Homo sapiens: one gene and its partners. The protein of the gene in region 1 interacts with the protein of each later gene in a pairwise test. Each region holds a gene or a part of one and is shown in the gene's direction. Other genes may lie near its edges.

Region 1 (4,723 bases):
TGTAGGTTCAGGGAGATTCTGGGAGGGCTTCACAGAGGAAGTGACATCCCAGTTGGTCTTGGATGGTGCATAAGAGGTCACTGAAAGCCAAGGTGGGAAAGGTCAGCCACCCAGAGTGAATAGTGTGTGCGCAGGCATGCAGCTCACCATACCCAAGGAAAAGGCAACCTGGCTGAACTCCGAGAAGAGTTGAGAGCCGAGGAGTCTCAGGACTGGGGCTGCGGACAGGGGCCAAGGCACATGGGTCAGTAGATGTTGATTGAATGAATGAGTGAATGAAGCTGGAAGTGATGGGTAGTTTTTAAGCAGAGACCTGTCTTTAACAGGTTTGCATTTTAGAAGGATTCCCTTGTCCCTTCAGTGGCAGTGGCCGGGGTGGGAGTTGGGTGAGGTAAGAGGCAGAGAGTCTGAGTAAGGGTTGGGGCTGACAGAAGGGACTGTGAGCTAAGTCCTGGTTCATAGTAGAAGCTCATTTTTCCCAGCCTTGTATTTCTCCCTCCCGACATCCAACCTGCTGCTGCACTCCAGGCAGGAGGGGAAAGGCAGAGGGACAAGGCCAGGGAGGGCTTCAGAGGACCAGCCAAGGAGGCCAGACTTTCTCCTAGTGACAGTGGAGAGCCACAGCAGTTTCTAGAGCCAAGGAGGGATCTGACAAAATCAGGGCTTGTGAGAGCCCATCCTAGAGTCCCTTGTCCTTAATGAGGGGTTCCCCATCCCTGCCCAAGTGGTCTAGAATGGAGTCAGGCCAACCCTAGACTGGAAGGTAGGACACTAGTGTCTTGAAATCTAGGGCAGAGTCTGGCTGGGAAATGGTGGAGAGCAAAGGTTCTACTGCCCTTGCCTGGGGTGAGGCCGGCTCCACCTTTCACTGGCTGTACAGCTCCGCACAAGCCCTCAACCTCTCTGAGCCTGGAACCCCTGGGGCATGAGAATCAGACAACATAATGCCCCTATGCCATTCAGCTCAGGCCTGGCACAAATACATACTCTGTAAATTAGCTGTGACCTTGGGCAAGGTACTGACCCCTCTGAACCTCATTTTCCTCCTTTCTAGAATAGAGACAGGGATTTATGCCCTCAGGGCTGCCATGTACCTTAGAGTTGACTGTGTGCATCTTATAAGCTACAGCTGGAGCGGGGGTGGGTGGGCAGAAGGGGCAGGGCTGCCAAGCCAGGAAGCTGGTGGGCACAGAGCACAGGGCGCCGGTCCCAGTCAGTGGGACCTGCCATGCCCCTGGGCCTGGAGGTTGCCCCTGGCAGGCCACAGAGGCCCACTGTGACCTGGCCCCAGCCTGCCTCCACTGGGACTGCCCATCCATCTTTCGGGTCTGGGGTCGCTGGCTGCCATTGGGCTTTGCTGCCGCTTCCTCCACCTGCACTGCCCTCCCCTCCCAGTGCCCATCTTGTGAAAGGCCAGAATGTGGGTATGTGATGGGGAGGCCATGGGACCTGTGGGACCAGGGAAGATGCTAGTAGAGGGCAGAACTCAGTCCTTGTTCCAAGACCACGGAGAGGTCTTGGGCCCTCACCCGGAATATGCACCAGCCACACCCTCACCTGTGCCGCCTCTGCCCGCAGGTAACCCCCCGCGGCCTAGCCTGGAGCCCGAGGAGCCCAAGAGGCCTGTCCCCGCAGAGCGCGGTAGCAGCTCTGGGACGCCCAAGCTGATCCAGCGGGCGCTGCTGCGCGGCACCGCCCTGCTCGCCTCGCTGGGCCTTGGCCGCGACCTGCAGCCGCCGGGAGGCCCAGGACGCGAGCGCGGGGAGTCCCCGACAACACCCCCCACGCCAACGCCCGCGCCCTGCCCGACCGAGCCGCCCCCTTCCCCGCTCATCTGCTTCTCGCTCAAGACGCCCGACTCCCCGCCCACTCCTGCACCCCTGTTGCTGGACCTGGGTATCCCTGTGGGCCAGCGGTCAGCCAAGAGCCCCCGACGTGAGGAGGAGCCCCGCGGTGAGTGGCCTGAAGCCGGCCTGCTTCACATATGGGAGACGGGGGTTCCCAGGGAGGGAGGAGTGGCTGGTGGGGACATGCAAGGAGGCAAGGCCGAGACCACAGTCATCAGCTGGACCCTGAACCAGGCATTCGGGGTACTGAAGACGCATGTAGGGAGCAGAGTTCTAAGTTCAGCTATCAGGTGGTCCAGGCAGGTGGGGGCGATGCCTGCTGTGAAATAAAAGAAGTAATCGGGCCAGGCAGTGGTGCACGCCTGTGATCCCAGCACTCTGGGAGGATCACGTGAGCCTTGAAAGGTTGAGGCTGCAGTGAGCGGTGATCATGACACTGGACTCCAGCCTGGGCGACACAGCATACATGTAATCATAATCGTAGCAAACTCCTGGCTCCTTACTTGTGCCAAGTACTGTTTGCAAGGCTTTCCCGAGATGGTCTCATTTAGTCATAACAACCAGAGAACTAAGCGCTCCTGGATGCCCATTTTTAGATGAGGAAATTTAAGGCACAGAGATTAAGGGACCCACAGCTCCCACAGCTAGTAAGTGGCAGGGCCGGGATCCACATCCAGGCCAGCCTGCTGCAGAGGCCTCACTCCTAACTATTACAAAAAACAGAGGCACCACGGAGCAGGAAGGGCGGTGGAAGTTGAGTCAAGTAGGTCACTGTGCACATGGGGAAACTGAGGCCCAGAGCAGGACAGTGTCTTGGGGACCTCAGCAGTTGGGGGTTGCTTGACCCTGTGCCCCTCCTATATCCTCACAGGAGGCACTGTCTCACCCCCACCGGGGACATCACGCTCTGCTCCTGGCACCCCAGGCACCCCACGTTCACCACCCCTGGGCCTCATCAGCCGACCTCGGCCCTCGCCCCTTCGCAGCCGCATTGATCCCTGGAGCTTTGTGTCAGCTGGGCCACGGCCTTCTCCCCTGCCATCACCACAGCCTGCACCCCGCCGAGCACCCTGGACCTTGTTCCCGGACTCAGACCCCTTCTGGGACTCCCCACCTGCCAACCCCTTCCAGGGGGGCCCCCAGGACTGCAGGGCACAGACCAAAGACATGGGTGCCCAGGCCCCGTGGGTGCCGGAAGCGGGGCCTTGAGTGGGCCAGGCCACTCCCCCGAGCTCCAGCTGCCTTAGGAGGAGTCACAGCATACACTGGAACAGGAGCTGGGTCAGCCTCTGCAGCTGCCTCAGTTTCCCCAGGGACCCCACCCCCCTTTGGGGGTCAGGAACACTACACTGCACAGGAAGCCTTCACACTGGAAGGGGGACCTGCGCCCCCACATCTGAAACCTGTAGGTCCCCCCAGCTCACCTGCCCTACTGGGGCCCAACACTGTACCCAGCTGGTTGGGAGGACCAGAGCCTGTCTCAGGGAATTGCCTGCTGGGGTGATGCAGGGAGGAGGGGAGGTGCAGGGAAGAGGGGCCGGCCTCAGCTGTCACCAGCACTTTTGACCAAGTCCTGCTACTGCGGCCCCTGCCCTAGGGCTTAGAGCATGGACCTCCTGCCCTGGGGGTCATCTGGGGCCAGGGCTCTCTGGATGCCTTCCTGCTGCCCCAGCCAGGGTTGGAGTCTTAGCCTCGGGATCCAGTGAAGCCAGAAGCCAAATAAACTCAAAAGCTGTCTCCCCACATGTAGCCTGTCACCTTTCTTGGAGGTAACCAGGTGACCCAACCTATCATACAACCCTGGTGTCCTGATGCCCCAACAATAGGCAGTTGGATGCCTTGTACTGCATGCCTCTCCTGGGACCAAATCCACCAGCCTTGGTCAGTCATTCAAGGCTCTTCTCGGCCAGGTGCAGTGGCTCACTCCTGTCATCACAGCAGTTTGGGAGGCCGAGGCCGGCGGATCACATGAGGTCAGGAGTTCAACCTGGCCACATGGTGAAACCCCATCTCTACTAAAAATACAAAAATTAGCCAGGTGTGGTGGTGCATGCCTGTAGTCCCAGCTACTCTGGAGGCTGAGGCAGGAGAATTGCTTGAACCTGGAAGGTGGAGGTTGCAGTGAGCCAAAATCACGCCACTGCACTCCAGCCTGGGCAACAGAGCAAGACTCCGTCTCAAAAAAAAAAAAAACAAAAAACCATAGGCCGGGCATGGTGGCTCACGCCTGTAATCCCAGCACTTTGGGAGGCCGAGACGGACAGATCACAAGGTCAGGATTTTGAGACCAGCCTGGCCAATATGGTGAAACCCCGTCTCTACTGAAAAAAATATATATATATACAAAAATTAACCAGGCGTGGTGGCAGGTGCCTGTAGCCCCAGCTACTTGGGAGGCTGAGGCAGGAGAATAGCTTGAACCCGGGCGGCGAAGGTTGAGTGAGCCGAGATTGCACCACTGCACTCCAGCCTGGGCGACAGAGCGAGACTCCATCTCAAAAAAAAGAGTAGTAAGTTCCACCCACCTCCCAGTATGGTGACTTGCCATGGCATCTGGCACCCCTGACAGTTCTCTTCACACTGCCATGGGGGCTCTGGCACTCCCACACCATACCCTAGGGCAGGGTCCCTCCCTCGGCCTCTGTCCATTCTCTTCACACTGCCATGGGGGCTCTGGCACTCCCACACCATACCCTAGGGCTGGGTCCCTTCCTTGGCCTCTGTCCTCAGCCCCTCTGACGTTAGAGGAGTTGGAACCCAGGCTCCCCCTTCCCCTCTCCCAGGTGCCCCATGGCAGCCCAGACTCTGTGTCTGCAGTTCAGGGGCAGGGAGTCAGGAGGGCAGGCACAAAGCGTTCTCAGGAAGAACTGGCAATC
Region 2 (4,258 bases), on another chromosome or scaffold:
CACAGGACCTCCGCACAGCCCAGACCGGCGTCCTCCTCCTCCTCCCTTCCCTTCACCTTGTTAACCACTCAGCCATCATATTTCAGCTCCAGTCAATCTCAGGATGCCTGCCCTACACCCTGGGCTGAGTGAGGTTCCTTTTTTAGATGTTCCATAGGCTGGGTGCAGTGATTCGTGCTAGTAATCCCAGCACTTTTGGAGGCCGAGGTGAGAGGATCGTTTGAGTCCAGAAATTGGAGACCAGCCTGGGCAACAAAATGAGATCCCATCTCTACAAAAAATTAGCCACTCGGGAGGCTGAGTTAGGAGGATCGCTTGAGACCTCCTGAGGTTGAGGCAGCAGTGAGCTATGATTGCACTCCAGCCTCAGTGACAGGGCAAGACCCTGTCTCAAAAAAAGATATGTTGCATGGAACTGATTATTCAGCTTGTAATTACATTTTCGTTTTCGGGATTTTGTTTGTGGGATTTTGTTTCCTGTGTCTGTCTCTCCAGCTAGATCATGCAGGAGGGCTGTCTCCCTAACATCTGTCACGGTGCCTGACATGTAGCCGACACTCAGTGTTTCAGTGCAAGGAAGAGCCCAGCGCCCAGAGGTGTGACGGAGGTGCTCTTTTGGCTGGGGAACTTGCACTGAGCCAGGAGGGATAGGCCAGGCAGCCTTCCATCCAAAAGACTTGTTTTTGTTTGTTTGTTTGTTTTAGATGGAATTTTGCTCTTGTTGCCCAGGCTGGAGTGCAATGATGCAATCTCAGCTCACTGCAACCTCTGCCTCCCGGGTTCAAGTGATTCTCCCGCCTTAGCCTCCTGAGTAGCTGGGATTACAGGTGCCCACCACCAGAGACGCGGGTTTCACCATGTTAGCCAGGCTGGTCTCGAACTCCTGATGTCAGGTGATCCACCCGCCTTGGCCTCCCAAAGTGCTGGGATTACAGACGTGAGCCACCGCGCCCGGCCCAAAAGACTTGCTCCCAAAGTGTTTGTTTTACAATCTCGGGTCTTAGAAATAACACGGGTGGCATGAGAGGAAGCTGTCCAGGGGCTGTGGGTGGTGGGCAGCCTTTCCCTGAGCCAGTACGGGGACGTGGATAAGGGGCAACAGGTCCTTGCCGCTTTTCCTAGGTCCCTGGCCCGTGCCTGAGGCCTGGGATCTCTGTAGCCCCGAGGTGGAGTCAAGCCTGGGGCCCCGGGCCCCAGTCTTAGCCGCAGCCTCGGGCAAGCTGCGTAACATCTCTGAACTGGGACTGTGCGGATTCGAGAAGGCAGCGGACGCGAAAGGAGCCCAGCCAGGGCTGGCGCTTCCCGCAAGCGGCCGCGCGTGGCTGCGGGGATCACTCGGGCGAAGCTCGCGGGCCAGGCGGGGCGTTCCCGGGGCCGCTCTTGTGACGCCACGGGCGTTGCCCAGCAACCGCGAACGCCGCGGCGGTGAGCTTGCGGGCAGGCGGCTGGGGCGGCTCCGGGCTCGGGTTCTGCGGCGGCGCCTGCAGCGCGGATCCCCCACGTCCCCGCTCGGGCCGGGCCTCAGAAACGGGCGAGCCCGGGCGCGGGAGGAAGCGGCGGCCCCGGCTCGGGTCCTGCGACGCCCAGCTCCCCTCCGGGGCGCCCCCCGAGGGGTCCCCGCCCCCCGCCGCGGCCCCGCCCCTGCCTCAAGGCCCCGCCCCCCGTGGCCGGCGCTGGCCCCGCCCCTTGGCCCGGGCTGCTGGGAGTCCCCGGCGGGGCGGGGGTCAGCTCTGGTCCCGTTGGTCCTGGGCGCGGCGCCATGGCCTCCGAGGCGGTGAAGGTTGTCGTGCGCTGCCGTCCCATGAACCAGCGGGAGCGAGAGCTGCGCTGCCAGCCCGTGGTGACTGTGGACTGCGCGCGCGCCCAGTGCTGCATCCAGAACCCGGGCGCCGCCGACGAGCCGCCCAAGCAGTTCACCTTCGACGGCGCCTACCACGTGGACCACGTCACCGAGCAGATCTACAACGAGATCGCCTATCCGCTGGTGGAGGTGAGGGCGCCCGGCAGGCCGCCCTGCAGGCGGCAGGGCATGAGGCCGCCCCGAGAGTCCCCAGGGGGCTGCGCTGCCCCCCAGCCAGGAGGAAAGGCCCTCGAGGGGCGCAGGCGGACGGGAACAGGTAGGTCCGGAGGCTTTTGTCCAGGCGGGACACAACCAGAGCCTGCCTCTAATGTCGCCTCCGGGTCTGCACTATCCCCAGCGTCTCCGCCTCCCGGGTTCAAGCGATTCTCCTGCCTCAGCCTCCCAAGTAGCTGGGATTACAGGTGCCTGCCACCACGCCCGTCTAATTTTTGTGTTTTTAGTACAGATGGGGTTTCACCATGTTGGCCAGGCTGGTCTCGAACTCCTGACCTCAAGTGATCCGCCCGCCAAGTGCTGGGATCACAGGCATGAGGCACCGCGTCCGGCCGAATGGTGACTTTTTATCTTCCCTCACTGGCAAGATGGGGCACACCTAGCCCTGTTTTGGTTACAGCATGGGTCTTTGCAGTGGAACCGGGCATAGATGCCATGTGGGCCCTTGGGGTCTCAGAACAATTCTCTGGGCCAATCTACCCATACAGGATCCACCCCAAGCCCACACTAAGGTCTAGAATTTGCAAGCTCATGAGCTCTGCAAGGGCAGGAACTGTGTCTGCCTCGTTCACCACTTTGTCCGTAGGCTGAGCATAGTCCCTGTCGAATGAATAGAAACAGCGATGAATGAAGAATGACTTTGGGAATGACTTTGGGAACAGCACCGGGTTTGCCTCCTCTCTTCCTTCCAGGCCTCATCTTCCACCCCTCCCCTAGTCCCTCCTGCTCTCCACACCTCATCTGTGTGGCTTTACTCAAGCTGACCCCTCAGCCTGGAATGCCTTCCTCTTCCTGTCACCTGGCAAAGTACGAGCCCCACTCCCAGCTCCCCCAGTTCTCCCTGTCTTTGCCGCCTGGAAAGCTGTGCTTCGTTCTTCCTGTGCCATCCTGTTTTCGCTTCTTTGTACTCCCTGTCCCTGCCGGCTGGCTGCCTGGACTCTTGTCGCTGTGTGCCCCGCCCCATAGCCCGCCACGAGAATCACCTGTACGTGTCCAGCTCCCTGCATTGCAGGCAGACATTGGGCCATCACCTGTGTATGGCAGTGCTTCCTGTGCCCATGCACGAAAGAAGCCCTGTATGCACCCTGTGAGAGCCCCGCAGGTGCTGCTCTTACCCTTTAAGATATTGATTTTTTTTTTTTTTTTTTTTGAGACGGAGTCTCGCGCTGTCGCCCAGGCTGGGGTGCAGTGGCACGACCTCGGCTCACTGCAATCTCCTGGGTTCAATAAATTCTCCTGCCTCAGCCTCCCGAGTAGCTGGGACTGCAGGAGCTCACCACCACACCCGGCTAATTTTTCGTATTTTTAGTAGAGACAGGGTTTCACCGTGTTGCCAAGGCTGGTTTTGAACTCCTGACCTCAGGTAATCTGCCCACCTCAGCCTTCCAAAGTGCTGGGATTACAGGCATGAGCCACCCCGCCTGGCCCAAGGTGTTTTTCTTATCATCTTATCAATTTGCCTCAGTAAGGCCAGCCCAAGGGCACACGGTCAGTAAAGTGGAGATGGATGTGAGCCCAGGGGGCCAAGCCCACAGCTCAGGCTCTTCCCCATCCACACACAGGGACAGCTCCTACCCCACCAGAGAGTCAACTCCTTGAGGACAGAGCTGCGCCTTGTTTATCTCCACAGTCCAGTGCCATTGTTGGTGGGGGGACCAGGAAGGGCCCTGAGTCTGTGGGTTAGGGAGCCCTGTCCCGAGCCCTGCTGTGCCTGCTCCACTGAGCACGGGGTCCTGCCTTCCTCCCATGCAGGGCGTCACTGAGGGCTACAATGGCACCATCTTTGCCTACGGCCAGACAGGCAGCGGGAAGTCCTTCACCATGCAGGGCCTGCCGGATCCGCCCTCCCAGAGAGGCATCATCCCCAGGGCCTTCGAGCACGTGTTCGAGAGCGTCCAGGTACGGGCCTCGCAGAGGGAAGGGGCAGGGCCAGAGCTGCAGCTGGGCCCAGAGCACTTCTGACAGGTGGCAGAGACACGGGAAGTCTTTGGAGCCCGGCCTGACCCGTGCAGATCAGCAGAGAAGGCTCTGGGTTCTGAAAAGGTGGTGGGAAAAAAACTTAGAACAGAGAAAATTCTGTCCATGCTTTTCTCTCACCATTTTTGCCTTCTAACCCTTAGTTGAGCATTTCCCATGGATCTGCTGACCCTGTGCACTGGGCCAGGAAGTGGTTGTAACAATCAC
Region 3 (3,500 bases), on another chromosome or scaffold:
TGCGAGTATACATGTTTTTTAACAAGTTGAAAATGTTTCATCTGAACCTTTCCTAACTTTTTTTTGCCAGTTTGAGTTCAAATCAAATACACCTTAAGTTCTGGTTTCATGTTCTCTTGAAACATTGAATTGTACGTAAATATAAAGGATCTACTGTTGCGGAAAATTAAGAAGCTAAATACTGCTCAGTTATCTTTGCCTGCGTGTATATTTTTAAAAATTCACTCTGAAGTGTTATGGATGCTTTTCTTTGAGTTCTAAATTTTGGTGGGAATTACTTTATGTCTCCCAGTTAAGAAGAGTCTCCATTTTCCAGAAAATACAGCTAAGCAAGAAAAATATCTTTTAAATACTTTGCCTTTAAAACACTTTTTTATTTTGTTTTTCTATTTTAAAAATAAAATATTATTTTCTGAATTTCTTCTATTGGGTAATCCAGTTAGACCATATTCCTCTACAAATAAAAACTATGTTGATTTCATAGTAAAGTAAGTTGTAATAGAGATAATTATTTTTTTCTGTTGTTAGCTGCTTATGAAACTTTTATTGTATTTTTTTAAAGTTATGCTACTCCTGGCCGGGCATGGTGGCTCACGCCTGTAATCCCAGCACTTTGGGAGGCCGAGGCACGTGGATCACTTGATGTCAGGAGTTCGAGACCAGCCTGGCTAACATGGTGAAACCCTGTCTCCAGTACAAATACAATAATTAGCTGGGTGTGGTGGCGCACACCTGTAATCCCAGCTACTTGGGAGGCTGAGGCAGGAGAATCACTTGAACCTGGGAGGCGGAGGTTGCAGTGAGCTGAGATGGCATCACTGCACTCCAGCCTGGGTGACAGGGTGACACTCCACCTCAAAAAATAAAAATAAAATAAAAATAAAGTTATGCTACTCCTAAACCACTTAATATATGTTTTGTGGTTTTCAAAATTATGTAATCAGCCCTGAAACACATTGGTTGAAAATATTTTGAGACTTTATAAGTTAGTATTTATTAAATTAATATTATTTTAATAAGTTTTGTTAAATCCTAGTTTAAATGACAAAGCTGTGTATAGAGTAGGGGTGAGTGAAGGTGGAGTACTCTTGAGGTGGCGATAAAAATGTACCCATAAATTTAAAGTCCATTCTGTAATTGGAATACTGAATGTCCTGTGTGTGGTGAACATTTTCTAGGTGATTAGAATTGCATTTCACTGGCTGCATTTGTTTGTGGTATGTAAGATAGCTAGAAATTTATTACTTAACTCTGTGGGGCATTGTTTAGATACTGTGAAGAGTTGAGGTAAATATGTGTCTTGTAAAAGCTTTGTGTGATCAGAATATTTTGGTAATTATAAAATGTTTTTGATGATACACATTTAACTCTGTTAGTAATTACTCTAAAGAAATCTTAATTTTACCAGTTTAAAAAAAACGCTTCTTTTTAAAAGTTCATGTTTCTAACCTTTAACAATTCAGTTAATAGGAAAGGAGTAACTTTTAAATCAAGCTTTAAAACATGGAAATTTAAGCCAGTATGTTAGATATTTTTTCTATCCCACCCTACCATGATAATAAAAATAAATCTATAAAAAGTCAAAATAAAAAGCCGATCTATAAAAAGTCAATTGAGAAGTTCTAAAAGCAGGCTACTATAGCAGGGGTGTTTGTTTTTTGTTTGGAGACGGAGTCTGGCTCTATTACCTAGGCTGGAGTGCAGTGGGACAATCTCGGCTCACTGTAACCTCTGTCTCTTCAGCCTCCTGAGTTGCTGGAACTACAGCTGTATGCCATCATGCTCGGCTAATTTTTGTATTTTTTTGTAGAGATGGGGTTTTGCCATGTTGCCCGGGCCTGTCTTGAACTCCTAGAGCTTAAGTGATCCACCCGCCTCAGGCTCCCGAAGTGCTGGGATTACAGGCATGATTATAGGCCTGAGCCACCACACCCCGCCTACTATAGCAGTTTTTTAAAAAAAGCATTATGTTAAAACTGATTATACCAGATGGACATTAAATATCCATCTCAGAAATACCAAAATTTGATACATAAGCCTGGCCTGAATATCTTTTTTTTTTTTTTGAGACGGAGTCTTACTCTGTCGCCCAGGCTGGAGTGCAGTGGCGCGATCTCGGCTCACTGCAACCTCTGCCTCCTGGGTTCAAGGGATTCTCCTGCCTCAGCCTCTTGAGTAGCTGGGATTACAGGTTTGCGCCACCACACCCAGCTAATTTTTGTATTTTTTTTTTAGTAGAGACCGGGTTTCACCATGTTGGCCAGGCTGGTCTCACCTGACTTTGTGATCCGCCCGCCTCAGCCTCCCAAAGTGCTGGGATTACAGGTGTGAGCCACCACGCCTGGCCTCAAGCCTGGTCTGAATATCTATATGCAAATATGGGACACTGACTTCAGAGCTATTCATTTAGCTCCAGTCATAGCAATTCTGTAGTTTCCTCACATTTACTGTGTCTTTGTCCACAAATGAAATATGTTGTAAGGTCAGTGTTAATTTCGTGAGACGATATAGATGAACACACTTGCTCATTTTTTGAAATAAATATGCAGATTTAAAATGAGTGGCACATATATATAAATAGGTTATTGAATGGGTATTCTCTTTTCCCTTTAATTTAAAAAGTGATATTTATTTATTAAAAGGAGCATTGGTAGAATTATTGGTTTATAGTATCTTCTTTAATAATCCTTACAATTACATATACTAATAGGATGTTAAAATTATCATCGTGTTTCCTATTTGTGTTTAGATTCTTATAAAGCATGAGATGAGTAATCAAGGGAAGGGTCGCATCTCCATGTTTGCCCCATGAATAGAATCCATTTGACAAGCCATTTCATTTCCTTTCTGGAGAAAGGGAGTTGTTTTTTTTTTCTTTTTACAGCAAAAATTTAAGGTTTTATTGGGGGAGGGGGTGGTGCTACTTCCTCTGTAACATGTTTTTAAAACTATGATTATGGTTTTTGGTTGTTTTTTGTTTTGTTTGTTTCCTTTTAGTCTGTTTTTAATATCCTTCCCCTTAACTCTTAAGGAAAGTCTTCTTTCCTACAGGGCTGTGAATTAAGGAATGGGTAGCGTTTACATTTAAGTACACCAATGTCTGCCCAATTTCCTAATGTATACATTTGTTTTATTTTAAATTATTTTTTGTTCTTAAAAATACTAGAAGAAAACATAGATGTTTCTAGTGCCTTTGAACTTATACTGTAGTCTGACTAATTTAATGAATAACTTCAGTAGCATTACTATAATACTGTATGCTGGCCAAAATTACAAATTACAGTTTGTTGCATCAGTTTCAAAAGCCATGCTTTCATTGTATTTTATGTATAAATTGTATTTGTTCAAGTTGTATATATTGGTATTGTATGTATACATGCAGCATGGTTAAATAAGAATAAAAATCTTTTACCTAATGCCTGTAGTAGTGGTCTGCTGCTTTTCTCAACTATCTTTGTGGTTACTTCCACCCTGATATTAATGAGCAGGTTCTTTGTGCT
Region 4 (3,867 bases), on another chromosome or scaffold:
AGAATGTCTCCAGGTTTTAGCATCCTAGAAAGCCTGATTTCCCCCACTATATTAGAAAGAAGCAAATGAGAGTTTAAAGAAACAAACTGTTATGTTTCACAGTGAATTTAATTAAAAATGTATGTAGATATAGTTGATTTTTCATAATACAAAAGGACCTAGGACCTATGTCAAAGTACTCTCCAAACTGATCATAAATGTTTTAAATATTTTTTGCTTTAAACAGCAAGTTCATCTGTGATACATAATGGAGAATTCCAGAAAAGATCATTTTAGAGTTTGGTTTCAAATTTTATTCCTTTTTTCCAAAACGATATTTGTATATAGAAATTCGAAAAATTAAATGATATCCTCTACACTGTAATACACACAGATGTCTCTGGGTGAACTGCTGACTACATAAATAGATCTTTACCATAGTAACCTAAAGACCATACTGTTCAAGACCAGAGATTTACAGGTTCAGAAACTCAGACTCATCAGTGCTCAAGGGCCAGTCTTTCACTGACTTGGGACTGCAGGTTTTTATCAACAATGTGCATGACATATTTTAAAAAGAAAAATCCATTTGTTAATGTACAATGAAAGTTATAACCATCAGGTGGATTAGGTAATATCTAAGTTTATTATTTAACCTGTTGGCAAATTACATGGGAAATTACAGTGATCAATAGTTTGCCTATTAGTCGTAGAAATAAAAAAAAGGGGGAGAATTTTGCAACTTGAATGTAGAATGGCCTCAGACTCTGAGAATGTTAAATTCCCTTCCTGATTGAGGACCAAACTGCAAAAAGGCCAGATATTCCTTATGGTGTTATAGCTTACCAGATCACCACGCAATTGCCTAGGTTGCTACAACCAGCGTTGTAGCTGAGACGCTCCTTGTTCTGTGCCAATGACTGGTGAACTCCCTTCTGAGGACCATCTTCTTTTAGGTAGAATTACAGTGATATTGCTAACAAGTCGTCTGTGAGATACTCTGAAGGTGCCTTTGCATGTTTCCTCACTGTCCCACATATGCCTCTTGTTTTCATATTACTGAAATAGATCTTGCCATAGCCCCTAGATTGAGAAACAAGCATAAGATTAACTTGAGTTTAACCTAAGTCTACTGCTATTTGGCCTCAGAGGAGTTGCTAAAAAAGATAAGGACTGGTTGAAGACAGGTAATAAGCAAAAGATGAAGAAGGAACAAGTTGAAATCCAAGCTATGTAATCAACAGTTATATAATTGAGAGTTCTTTAGATACATGATTACTTGTTAGCCTTAGTGCTTGCAGAGAACAGTTTTCAATAACTTCTCTAATTTTAAGCTGATACCAGTGTCTCTTAGTTCACTGATTCCACTAATTTCTGAAGCATCTTTTAAGCTACCTCTTGATTTCCTCATCACAAAATTTAGTCTCTCTTCCCATGAGATCAAAGTTAGAAAAAGTGCCTATATTTTTACCATTTCAAAATAAAATGTAGACTTAAAAATTTCAACCAACTTTGAGAAACTATAGACAGAGTTTTTATATAGAAGGACCCCAAAACAACAAATTTTGTCCAGAATCGCTCAGTACAAATGCTAACCTGAAACTTGTATTTCAGAACTTCCATTCTCCTAAAGGGCAGAGTCACTGGACCAGTATGTGTTATATGTATTTTGGCTCTTTACATTTACTCTTTAGTTCCATCTTAATACACACAAGCACGCGTGCACACAAACACACACACGCATTCACACATTTATTTAAAACCTTAACATTTTAATAGTTACTTCTAAAGTGTGTCAACTTAATCTCACTCTGAGTGTGACAGGGAGTTAGTGCCTATGTGAATATATTTTTTCATCACATTCAGTTTTTGCTATTGAGGGAAAATTATCTTTCCATCTCATGTAGTGCAAACTTAAATCTTAAATCATTTAAATATGTTTTATTTTTCCAAAGCTTACATTTCTGCATTACAAATGGTGTCCATTGATTGGAAGTCAAGCTCACTAGCATTCACTGCATGAGCTATGCATGAGCATGTTAAGGCCACCATGTTCTGCCTGGCAAAATAAATACTTTATCATTTTCCTAAGTGTTGGATAATTCCCTGACCTTTAAAAAGGACTTTGGAGAACAGATTTTCCTCTAAATAATGTATTAATAGACCAACAAGTAATTTTTTTAAAATAATAATCATGAAGTTTAACATACTTCAAGCTATCTTTACAACTCTGAAGGTTATCTTTGGGTTTCTGTTATTCCCATAGAATAAGTTGAACCAAAATTTGTAATTGTCTTGCTGTCACTCAAAAGAAATAGATATGTTTTGTAATTGTTTGCATTGAGGAATCAGAGGAAGGATTTGCAGATCAAATCTGACTAATTTTCAAATTTTGTCAAATTCCTTATCTTGTTCTTTTAATCATAGGCTTATGGTATGATTTGGCCCTGCATGAGAGTTCACTGATATAACTCAAACACATGTTTTTACTAAAAGTGGAATTAGTCCTGTATCTTCATATGAAAAGACATTATAAACAGCAAAACTCACTTTACTACAGTTTTATTTTTATCATTCCCTAGCAATATATTACTGATCATTGCTAGCATGTAAAATCTTTTCATATTTTTGCTTAAGAGCCATATATAAGTAATTTATTAAATAAAACTTTTCTGATTTGATTCTTCCACTTTGTTTCAAATAGTACCTACTGACAGAGGTTTCCCATACTTTTAACACACATTGTTAGAAGTATTTTATTATATACACTTTTAATGGCTCTATTAACCTTAAAAAAAAAAGTTAATGATATCCACCTAAATCACTATCCCTGCTAGGAAGAGAATCTTGGTGGTATAAAAATGTAGGCCTCTTAATCTGCATTGTGGATGTGTGATGAAAAACATAGCTTATCATTCTTTTTTTTCTTTTTTAGCCTTGGAATGGATGGCTTTGGCCAACCAGTTGGCATTCTTGGACGCCCTGCCACAGCATATGGATTCCGCCCTGATGAACCTTACTACTATGGCTATGGATCTTGATAAAGTATCTGTTTCCATGTGTAATCTCAGCTTAGAAGAAATCTGTGTGGGTTGGGTTAATTTTGGATCTTTGCCTAATAATGCATGTTGATGTTATTGTGGGTCTGTGTTTGTTTTTATTTTTATATGTTGTTAGCTGCAGATTAACCCCAGCCCCTCTGTCTTCTGTTAAGTACAGTTGATACTGACATTGTTCACTCATCAAACCACATCTTGATGCTAAGTAACATTTCCCATGAGCCACAAAACTGAATGCTGAAAAGCTACTAGACTGGAAAACAAACACTGCATTATGTATGTTAAGTGACTAATTTAATTTCAATTAAAAAGCGTAAAGTGAAAATGAATAAGTGAAAGTCATGTGTTTATATTTCACACATTTCACTACGAATTACATGTTAATATAGGGTGCGCGTGAATTTTATTTTTTCTCCTTTTTTTCTGCTTGTAAACTCTTGAGTAATTTGTATAATATATGCTACCTTTAAAATTTATAAAAAGAACATCACCTTCATATTCCATGCCATGTGCCTGAAAGTTTCCTTCCCAAAGTTTATTAACTATGAGTTTTCAATTAATAATGGAACATATGTCATAAGTTATTTATGGTTATAGTCTCTTTGGTGGTTTTAATTCATATCTTCCTAGTTGTAATATAGAAATCCTAGGACAAGTAGTATACAAGACAAGCAGTGATACAAGATTAGCATTTGGCTTTTAACTTTTATTCTTCATAAATTTAGTATCTAAAGCATGGGAAAGCTAATTAAAAGTCGCATTAAGGAAAACTAAGGAACAGAATATTTCACTCACTTGGGTACCCAGTTCCCAATTGTTCACTTGTTCT

What was found. The genes of interacting proteins can lie anywhere in the genome.
Region 2: the proteins of MAP3K11 (region 1) and KIF17 interact in a two-hybrid assay, tested with the Homo sapiens proteins (one study listed by BioGRID).
Region 3: the proteins of MAP3K11 (region 1) and KIF3A interact in a two-hybrid assay, tested with the Homo sapiens proteins (one study listed by BioGRID).
Region 4: the proteins of MAP3K11 (region 1) and KIFAP3 interact in a two-hybrid assay, tested with the Homo sapiens proteins (one study listed by BioGRID).

The regions. Positions count from the first base shown.
Region 1 is NC_000011.10:65,596,624-65,601,346, reverse strand, and holds the end of MAP3K11 (mitogen-activated protein kinase kinase kinase 11), read left to right. Parts: intron 1-1,578; coding exon 1,579-1,953; intron 1,954-2,718; coding exon 2,719-3,056; 3' UTR 3,057-3,590; downstream 3,591-4,723. UniProt on the Homo sapiens protein: Activates the JUN N-terminal pathway. Required for serum-stimulated cell proliferation and for mitogen and cytokine activation of MAPK14 (p38), MAPK3 (ERK) and MAPK8 (JNK1) through phosphorylation and activation of MAP2K4/MKK4 and MAP2K7/MKK7.
Region 2 is NC_000001.11:20,715,208-20,719,465, reverse strand, and holds the start of KIF17 (kinesin-like protein KIF17), read left to right. Parts: upstream 1-1,458; 5' UTR 1,459-1,759; coding exon 1,760-1,990; exon of another isoform or gene 1,991-2,117; intron 2,118-3,826; coding exon 3,827-3,973; intron 3,974-4,258. UniProt on the Homo sapiens protein: Dendrite-specific motor protein which, in association with the Apba1-containing complex (LIN-10-LIN-2-LIN-7 complex), transports vesicles containing N-methyl-D-aspartate (NMDA) receptor subunit NR2B along microtubules.
Region 3 is NC_000005.10:132,692,547-132,696,046, reverse strand, and holds the end of KIF3A (kinesin-like protein KIF3A), read left to right. Parts: 3' UTR 1-3,416; downstream 3,417-3,500. UniProt on the Homo sapiens protein: Microtubule-based anterograde translocator for membranous organelles. Plus end-directed microtubule sliding activity in vitro. Plays a role in primary cilia formation. Plays a role in centriole cohesion and subdistal appendage organization and function.
Region 4 is NC_000001.11:169,920,829-169,924,695, reverse strand, and holds the end of KIFAP3 (kinesin-associated protein 3), read left to right. Parts: intron 1-1,593; coding exon of another isoform or gene 1,594-1,630; intron 1,631-2,914; coding exon 2,915-3,020; 3' UTR 3,021-3,367; downstream 3,368-3,867. UniProt on the Homo sapiens protein: Involved in tethering the chromosomes to the spindle pole and in chromosome movement. Binds to the tail domain of the KIF3A/KIF3B heterodimer to form a heterotrimeric KIF3 complex and may regulate the membrane binding of this complex.